Homo sapiens: one gene and its partner. The protein of the gene in region 1 purifies or fractionates together with the protein of each later gene. This does not show direct contact. Each region holds a gene or a part of one and is shown on either strand. Other genes may lie near its edges.

The links. The genes of interacting proteins can lie anywhere in the genome.
Region 2: the proteins of DOC2B (region 1) and UNC13B purify together in Homo sapiens (affinity purification with mass spectrometry; one large-scale study listed by BioGRID and IntAct). This does not show direct contact.

Annotation. Positions count from the first base shown.
Region 1 is NC_000017.11:153,017-158,374, forward strand, and holds part of DOC2B (double C2-like domain-containing protein beta), read right to left. Parts: intron 3,362-5,358; coding exon 3,204-3,361; intron 60-3,203; exon of another isoform or gene 1-59. UniProt on the Homo sapiens protein: Calcium sensor which positively regulates SNARE-dependent fusion of vesicles with membranes. Binds phospholipids in a calcium-dependent manner and may act at the priming stage of fusion by modifying membrane curvature to stimulate fusion.
Region 2 is NC_000009.12:35,304,083-35,308,592, forward strand, and holds part of UNC13B (protein unc-13 homolog B), read left to right. Parts: coding exon 1-4,330; intron 4,331-4,510. UniProt on the Homo sapiens protein: Plays a role in vesicle maturation during exocytosis as a target of the diacylglycerol second messenger pathway.

The sequences.
Region 1 (5,358 bases):
CAGAGACGGGGACCCCTGAGGAGCCCCGAGCAGCAGCCGTCGTGTCTCACCCAGGGTGTCTGAAACAGATGTGGAGGTCTCGGGTGAGGCGTGGCTCAGATACAGGGAGTGGCCCACAGCTCGGCCTGTCTTTGAAAGGCCACGTGACCTGGCCCACGGCTGGCAGGTGGGACCCAGCTGCAGGGGTCCAGCAGCACCCACAGCAGCCACCTGTGGCAGGGAGGAGCTTGTGGTACAGTGGACAGGCCCTGCCCAGATGGCCCCCCGCCTGCCTGTGGAAGTTGACCAGACCATCTGTCACAGCAGGTAAGACTCTGCTTTCTGGGCAACCCAGCAGGTGACCCTGGAATTCCTGTCCATCTGGCAGGTGGGCATTGAAACTGGTTTAAAAATGTCACACCATAGGCCGGGCACAGTGGCTCACGCCTGTAATCCCAGCCCTTTGGGAGGCCAGGGTGGGTGGATCACTTGAGGTCAGGAGTTCAAGACCAGCCTGGCCAACATGGTGAAACCCCGTCTACTAAAAATACAAAAATTAGCCTGGCGTGGTGGCGCATGCCTGTAATCCCAGCTACTTGGGAAGCTGAGGGATGAGAACTGCTTGAACCTGGGAGGCAGACGTTGCAGTGAGCTGAGATCACGCCACTGCACTCCAGCCTGGGCAACAGAGTAAGACTCTGTCTCAAAAAAAAAAAAATCACACCATTTTGGCTTCAGATTGCATATCCTCCTGCAAGGATATATACGCGTGAAATTCAAGTCAATGACAAATCAGAAGAAAAAACATATATATACGCAAACCAGTATCCTACTGTGTGTGTCGTTTGTTGTGTTTTCGACAGCTGTCCGTGTTATAATAATTCCTCTAGTTCAAATTTATTCATTTTTAACTTCATAGTACCACATTCTACACACTGCCCATGTCCCCTCAAGCTTCCCCTGGCTCCTGCAACCACAAATCTACTCTCTGCCTCTGTGGGTTGACCTATTCTGGACACGTCATAGAAATAGAGTCCTGCAACACGTGGCCGTCTGTGTCTGGCTTCTCTCGCTTAGCATCTTGTTTCCAAGGTCCTCCCACAGTGTAGCATGCACCTGCTACACTCCTTCTTAGGGCTGATATTCCACGCACCTGCTACACTCCTTCTTATGGCTGATATTCCACGCACCTGCTACACTCCTTCTTAGGGCTGATATTCCACACACCCGCTACACTCCTTCTTAGGGCTGATATTCCACGCACCCGCTACACTCCTTCTTAGGGCTGATATTCCACGCACCTGCTACACTCCTTCTTAGGGCTGATATTCCACGCACCTGCTACACTCCTTCTTAGGGCTGATATTCCACGCACCTGCTACACTCCTTCTTAGGGCTGATATTCCACGCACCTGCTACACTCCTTCTTATGACTGATATTCCACGCACCTGCTACACTCCTTCTTAGGGCTGATATTCCACTGCAGGGACAGACTTCATTTGTGTATCCATTCATCAGTGGATGGACACTTGGGGTGTTTCCACTTTTGGCTGTTGTGGATAGTGCTGCTATGAACATTCCTGCACAAGTTTTAGGATGGACATGTTTTTCTTATCTCTTGGGTATATAACAAGGAGTGGAATTGCCAGATCAAATGGTGATTCTGTGTTTAACTTTCTGAGGAACTATCAGCTGCTTCCCAAAGTGGCCATCCCATTATTCTCATATTATTTTTATTTGTTTATTATATTTTGAGAGTGTCTCGCTCTGTCACCCTGGCTGGAGTGCAGTGGTGTGATCTCGGCTCACTGCAATCTCCACCTCCCAGGTTGAAGTGATTTTCCTGCCTCAGCCTCCCAAGTAGCTGCGATTACAGGCGCCCGCCACCACACCCAGCTAATTTTTTTATTTTTAGTAGAGACGGGTTTCCCCATATTGGCCAAGCTGGTCTCAAACTCCTGACCTCAGGTGATCCGTGCGCCTCGGCCTCCCAAAGTACTGGGATTACAAGCACGAGCCACTGCACTCAGCCTAATTTATTACTATTTTTAACTGTAGAGACAAGGTCTCAGTATGTTGCCAAGGCTGGTCTCAAATTCCTGGGTTCAAGCAATCCTCTCAAGTAGTTAGGACTACAGGGACATGCCACTACACCAGGCTAATTTTTAATTTTTTTATAGAGATGGAGGTCTCACTATGTTGCCCAGGATGGTCTCAAACTCCTAGCCTCAAGCAATCCTCCTGCCTTGGCCTCCCAAAGTGTTCAGAATGTAAGTGTAACTCACTGCACCTGCCACATACAATTTTTAAAGTGACAGAAATATGATCATGGCCATGGGAATGGTGCCCCTAGAGCTGTGCCACGAGGAGTACTGGCCTCTTCATGGTGCCAAGATGTCCCTGAGGCCTTAGTCACCTGGGTCCTTGGTGTCCCCTAGGTCAGGGCCATCCCTCTGTCATTCCCCCTCCCTGAAGCACCTGCCCCTCCTTTCTGCTGAACTAAATTCCTCCCCAAGTCTCAGTTTTCCAGAGTCTCCCTGTGAGCTCACACTCATACCTACCTAGTTTCTGAAGAGCCCCGAGCACTGACGGTAGTCACTGTGGCACCTGTAGCACCCTCTCCAAAGGGTCGCCAGCTCCTGCCTGGCTCTCAGAGCTACACAGCCTCTCCTGACCAGGCTCACAGCTCCACAGCTCTGCGGCCCAGGCCACCTGGCATGGCCCCCTGAGTTAGTGTCTCTCCCCAGGCCCACCATCAGCCCTGTTGGTAGAGCTGGGTGGACTCTTATCCGCATCTGTAGCACCATTATAGGGCTGGGCAAATGTGGGCAGTTGCAAAGGCCTGGCAGAGTTCCTCTGCATCCTCCCCCAGCCTCCTGGCTACCCCCGGCACTGGCCCCGCCTTCTGTCCCCTCCTGCAACTCATGGCCCCTCCTGGGCCCCTCAGTCACAGAGAGGCCTGGACATAGCATCAGGTGATAACTAATACCTGCATGACCCTGGGAAGCCACTCAGCTTCTCTGTCCCTCAGTTTCCCCATCTGTGAAATGGGCTGGCCATGCTTAACCCCTGGAGTTGCCAAGGTAGCCCATCAGGGAACACAGCGCCCCTGTACCTCAGGCACTCCCTGGGTGCCTGCCACCTGGGACCACGGAGCCGGCACACGGACCCCCGTCCTTGGAGGTGAAGACGTGGCAGGTGGTCACGCGCACGGCACACTCACGTTTTCACGTAGGGGTCCGAGTAGCCGTTGGCGTCCATGGCGGCCAGGTGGGCGCACCGCACGATGCCTACCAGCAGGCCTTGCTTCTGTGAGCTGTACTTGAGGGAGATGAGGATGCGGCCCCGCTCCTCCAGGGACTTGTCTTCAGTCTTGTCCACCTGTTGGACGGGACGGTCACTCAGTCCTCACCTGCTCCCACCCCTCTCTTGGCCGTCCTTGGCCTCCTCTTCCTGAGCCCGCCCATCCGGCTGCTGCAGCCGGGCCTGGTCACGGTCCCTGGTGAGTGGCCTCACTGTGAACTCACAGCCCTTCTGTCATCTCTTCCCTCCCAAGGGCTCTTCCAGGGCTGGATCTGACCCACACCCTCCCTGTTCTTGGCTGCATGTGGCCTACGGTGGCCTTCACAGCCCAGCAAGGGCCAGCCCAGGGGTTGGCAACTGCAGCCCGGGGGCCAGATCAGGCCCGACGCCTGGCTCTGTGTGGGATGTGAGCTAAGCATGGCTCTTACCCTTATCTTAAACAATTTCTTTTTCAAAAAAATAGAGACAGGGGTCTCACTATTTTGCCCAGGCTGATCTCAAACTCCTGGGCTCAAGGGATCTTCCCACCTTGGCCTCCCAAAGTGCTGGGATTACAGACATGAGCCACCGTGCCCAGCTGGTTCTTACTTTTTGGAATGGCAGAAAGAAAAATGAAATGAAAAATATTTTGTGACACATGAAAATGACATGAAATTCACACTTCAGCTTCCATTAACACCGTGTTGTTGGAACGCAGCCTTGCCAGCTCCGTGATGCTTCTCTATGGCTGCTTTTGCCCTAAGGACAGAGCTGCATGGTGGCCACAGATTGCGAGGCACACAGAGCCTAACATTAGCGCTAAGCGGCCCTTCACGGGTCTGCAGCCCCCGGCCTGGCGCGCTCGGCTTCCGCGGACGGTCTTCCACCAGGTCCTCCTCACAGCCCGCCCGGACTTTCCCTTGGCTTTGAAGCCGGGTCCCACCTCCACACCTTTGCGCACCCTTAATCCACAGCTCCAGCACCCTCCTCTGACCTCCTCAGTGTTCACCGTTGATAAATTCCTGGTCCTTCTGGGCCTGGGGGGCTTTTCTGACCCTCAGGGTGGGTTGGCCGTCCCCTCTGCGCGCCCACTGCCTCGGGTTTATCCTGTCATGGCCTGGTGTGGCCCCCTGCTTCCTCAGGGCTCTGCCCCAGCCTCTAAGTTCCTTGAAGTTGGAACTCTACCTGTAAATTTTGATTTTGACAGAGTCTGACTCTTGTCACCCAGGCTGGAGTGCAGTGGCATGATCTTGGCTCACTACAACCTCTGCCTCCCGGGTTTAAGCGATTCTCCTGCCTCAGCCTTCTGAGTAGCTGGGACTACAGTCTAATTTTTCTATTTTTTGGTAGAGACAGGGTTTTGCCATGTCTGCCAGGCTGGTCTCGAATTCCTGACCTCAAGTGATCCACCCACCTCAGCCTCCTGAAGTGCTGGGATTACAGGTATGAGCCACCGCATCCAGATAATACCTGCGTCATCTTTAATACCTCAGGGCTGGGCAAGGCCCTGGCACTAAGGGCCCACTGGAGGCTTGTACTAGTGAAGGCAGGAATGGAGGGACAGATGGTCCCCTGTGCGTTCAACCTCATACAAGCAACTCCAGCCTGGAGGTTCAAAGAAAGGCAGAAAGGTCTGCCCATGACAATGGAGCCTGGTGGATGGAAAAGGGTCACCGTGGCCCCAGTTCCCTGAAGGTGCTACCTGGAGCCTCTCAGGGTGCTGGATGTGGCTCCCTCAGGAGAACCCCGAAGACAGAGTTCTGGTACATTCCTCACCCTGGAGAAGCTGGGAGCCAAGTAGGGAGCCCATCCAGTGCCTTCCCTGCCTCAGCAGCTGCCAGTGCCTGCCTCTCAAGGCAGATCTCAGCTCCAGGCCTCCCCATCCCCAGCCAGCCTGATGCTTCTCCATTCCTTGCCCTCCCGAGACTACCCGGCTTCTTCCTTCTGGCTGCTGCACACCCCAAACCCTCTCTCCTAGGCCCTCAGCCCCCCCAGACAAACCCAGCTTGAGCCCACCCACACACGCCCAGCTTGAGCCCTGTGTCCCCCTGGATCCCCTTAGGACTCTACCAGGCTCCTCTCCCAAGCAGCCCCAG
Region 2 (4,510 bases), on another chromosome or scaffold:
ATCAAGAGTATTTGGATTGTGATTTACAGACAAATGGTCTATCAAGTATTACGTTGGATGACAGCATTATTTCTGCCTGTAGTTTTAAAGTACTTGATAAGGAAGATGAAATATTTTGGTATGTTGAAGAGGAACCAATTGATGACCCTCTTGATTTATCTTTAGCTTTGCCAAGAAGTGAGGAACCATTGTATCTAAATTTAGAAACCTTTTCACAAGTACTTAAAGAGTCAAGTTGTGACCAAAGCGATCAGCCACTAGATTTTTCAGGCTATAATCGTCAAAAGTTTAAAGGAGACTTTAGATCTTTCAAAGAAAGGCCGTGTGGTTCTGAAGACGCTGAATGTACATTAGATCTCAGAAATCAGCCCCAAACTATTAGTAATCATGTCTCAAGCAGAGATCAAATTATAGAGAGAGATAAAAACCAGCCTCTAGCTGAAGATTCATCAGTTCACCTTTCCAGTTTCCATTGGCTTCAGTCTTCTGTTGAAGAAGTTACCACTTTGGTTCATCCTGAAAATATGACTAAAGGCTCACAACAAGCAGAAGAGACATCATTAGTGAACAAAGTGGCTTCAGTATTTTCTGTTTTGGGTGCCTCAGTTGGTAGTACTTTGAAGTTTGATAAGAGTGAATCCTTAGAGGCTTTGGCCATGCAGAAAGTGAATCAGCAGTCAGATTTAGCAGAGCTCACAAATGATGGCTTTCAGTCATTAATCATGAGTAAGCAATTAGAGGGTAACTCCCCAAATGTGGAAAAAAGTCTTCTTAAGGATTCAGAAAGACAGATAGTATCCAATGTTCAGCATCCAGAATTGATCAAAAATATAAGGCAAGAATTCTCTTTAAATAAAAACAACCATGTGAAAAAGCAAAGTTTGTTAAAATCTGGTTTCCAGGTAAGCCAAACAACTCCTCAGGCTAAATCAGGTGTAAAAGATGATGAAATCATTACAACAGACTCTATTTCAGTTTCTCCTGCACCTCAGCATAGTGGGGATGAGCGTGAGAATTATGAGCTTCCCCAGGGCCAGTCATCCAAAGAGTCTGATAAAACATTATTTAAAAGTTCATTGAAACTCTTCAGTCAAGAAGAATCGTCAGTTAGTATGACAGCAAATGAAAAACAGTCATCTGGATTTTTGAATCTTTTTAAGACTCAGGTGAATAAAGAAGGATCACCAAACTTAGAAAAGATTGGTGATACAAATGTCAAGATACCACCTCAAGAAAAGAAAGAATCTTCTGGTGTTTCAAATTTTTGGGGTACCCTTGGGGATTTCTTTAAAGCCAATGTATCTCCTATACAGACAACTGAAAATACGTCTGTTTCTTCAATGACTATTAAGGATGAGGTCAGGTCAAGTCCTACTCCTATGGAGCTAGCTAGCCAGGGTGCTGGGAACTTTCCTGCTGCACCAATTTCCTCTAAAGGGAAGGCTAGAGTTAGAAGACTGAACAAACAGACTACTATCGATGACAGTAGGTTAGAGGAATCAACTAGAGGGATCCAGGGTAATGATTTGACTGAAAAAGAGGTACCATTCAGAGACCATCTAATCCAGCAGTCACCTAATTCATCTTTTTCAACAAGTAGTCTCAAAGAGTCTTCCAGGGAGTCTTCAGTAGAAACTAGTGGTGTGACTACAGTGACAGAAGTTTCAAAAAGTAATGAAATATCCTTTGATACCCTGAGCAAGAGAAATTCAAATGAACAAGATCATTTTTCTGACAAAGACTGGAGTTTCTCTATGGCTGCAACATCTTCATCTCAACCAGAGTTATCAACCAAAAAGAGTATATTTTCTTTTCTCACTGGATCTGAAAAATCTGAGAACAGAGCCTCTGCTACTCTACCAAGAGCCAAATCTCAGGCAGAAGGGCTATTCACACTTCCTTCATTTTTTTCCACTGCTAGCTCAAGCATTAAGAAGGATGCCTCTCATAGTAGTTCTACTTTTAGTTTCTTCAGCTTGTCCTTTTTGGATCAAAAAAAGGAGACCTCTGGGGAAAAACAAAGCATTTCAACTGTTGTTCCAGTGACCTCCCAGCCCTGTAAGAAGACAAATGTTTTTGTAGAGAGTGGTAGCACAATGACCAGAGAAAGTTCCAGTGGTCATAGAGATAGCATAGCCCAAGAAGTAGTTCATGAACAGCAAATGGCACCTTGTATTTCCATTAACAACACCATTGAGGTTACCTCCCTTGCAGATGAGCTCAGTGTAGACAAGGACTGTCAGGAAAAACTGAGTTCCAATATTGTACCAGGGACATCAGTGGATTTCCAGATGAATGAATTGCAAAAAGACATTATTCCTCCTTCACCAGAATTTCAGGCACAGGCTGAAACATTCCTCACTGGCCCAGAGAACCTTGGGATAGCTCCCCATGAAGAAGAGGCTTTCAACCACAAAGCCTTCCCCAGTGACTCACTGTCCAACTCTTTTTCACATGCTAAACAGTTAATTGAAAAATTCAATGATTTAGACACTTGTACTAACTGCCACCAAAATGAGAAATTTACTACTGACCCAGTGAACTTGCCATTAGAAAAGGCCCCCGATGAGGTCTTACCACAGATCCTAGAGCCAGCCTCTTCCTCTCCAGAGCCAGGGTGTGCAGGGAACCTTCAGAACCAAGATGCAGATAAAGAGGAAGACAAATTTGCATTAGGCTCTTCAGTAGACATGCTTTCAGGGTTTGTGACCAAAGTGAAATCTTTCTCTGGGAGCTTAATTGAACCTCCCAAAACACTCTCTGGACTTTTCTCCTCTCCTAAATCTCCAAAGAAAAACTCCTTTTTCTCTCTTGCTTCTGATGTATCATCTCAGCCCCTCAAAGGTGAATTATTTGGAATTTTCAAAAGTCCCAAGCCAGAGCCATACAAACAAGAATCATCTCTCCCAGCTACTTCATGGCTTCAAAATGGTTGTTCCAGAGATGCTGTAGGATCAGTACCTCCAGAAAGGAGAGAAGCTGCCTTTACAGCACTAAGTTCAGAATCTACTCTCAGTGACTGTAGAATGACTGTGGTTAGTGCAAAGCCAGAATCAGATATCTTGACAGATGATCCTAAACTAACAACCAAAATGGAAGACAATAATACTCCTGAAAATATTCTGGAACCTCAACGTTCTGAAACAATTAATACATCTTCTTTCTCGGGTGATGATACTGGGCAAGGAGTATTGTCTCTGAGTGATGAAGGAGACATGGGGATATTGCAAGCTACAGACACGGAGGCATCGTTAGAAGCAGAGAACTTTGCGCTGCCAGCACAGTTGCATCCAGATCCTACCTGCATTGCCGAAGAGCTTCCTCCTCCCATTCAGCCACCTCTTCCTCTTGAGCCAGAGCCAGCTATTCAAACTGCCTCCACAAACCAAGACTTACTGGAGCTGCATCCAGCCAGTTCACTAGAAACTGATACTATGCTGTTCAATGATGCAAGTGTGAGCCAGAGCACCACTCTGGAAACCGAAGGGCACTTTTCTCATCCTCTGCTGGAGGACCCTGTGCTTGCTGCCAGAGAAAGTTGTGAGATAATTCATGCCCAGAAAGATCCACCTGTAGTACCCCAGGAAACAGAGCAGTCAAGACCACGTTTTGAGATCCCAAATGTGACCACTTGGCCAAAGCTTCGTTTGCCATCCTCTGCTACTAACCATGGGAAACCACTGAGCTCTTTCTTTTCCTCACCTCTCCCCTCTGGCAATAGAGCAGCAGAGACTGGTTTAATGTCCAGTTTTAAGAAGTTGTCAACTCTATTTGAGGGAAGTAGTGAGGGGAAAGGGAGTGTATTAGCAAGTGATTCAAAACTAGGATTTGGAAAGGTAGATCTTTCATTTCCATGGCCAAAAGAGAACAAAGGGGTCCCTGAACAAATGCCTACAGAATCCTCCCCTCCAGTTTTAGTTACTAGCAGTGATCAGGACCTTAACTCCAGTGAGGCTAACAAAGCTTTGAAGTCTTCTCAAATATCTGGGGCCAGTGCTCAGCCAGGTAAAGTCTACACTCAGCCCTCTGGGACCTCTGAGCAGCTGGTGGCCAGTCCAGAGGTCTGTGCTCAGGGGCTTTCAGGGTCTGGAGAAGGGGGAAACCAGCAGGAAATCTCAGCATCTGGAGAACACTGGGATACCAAAGCCAACCTGTCTAGCCCCGCCTGTCCTTCAGGGAAACATGAGGAAGAACCCTCCACTGTCTCTGAGATATTTCACCAGCTAGAAAAACAAGAAGAGGAGGCAGTACCTGCCAGTACTGACTCTGATTTGAATGTACAGCAGCCAGTCACTCTGAATGACATCAAGGAGCCCATGACCAACAAAAGGCCTGTTCTTAACTCAAGCATCATAAATGGCTTTAAGGAATTGACCATTTATGATGCAAGTGACTTAGTGGTAGATTAATCATAGCTTGCTTTTTATCCTTCTTGTGTCTTTCCTAGTACCCGAGCTTCATGTTAATTAGGGGTTAAATAACAAGAACTCAGTGTGTGGGTATTTTCATC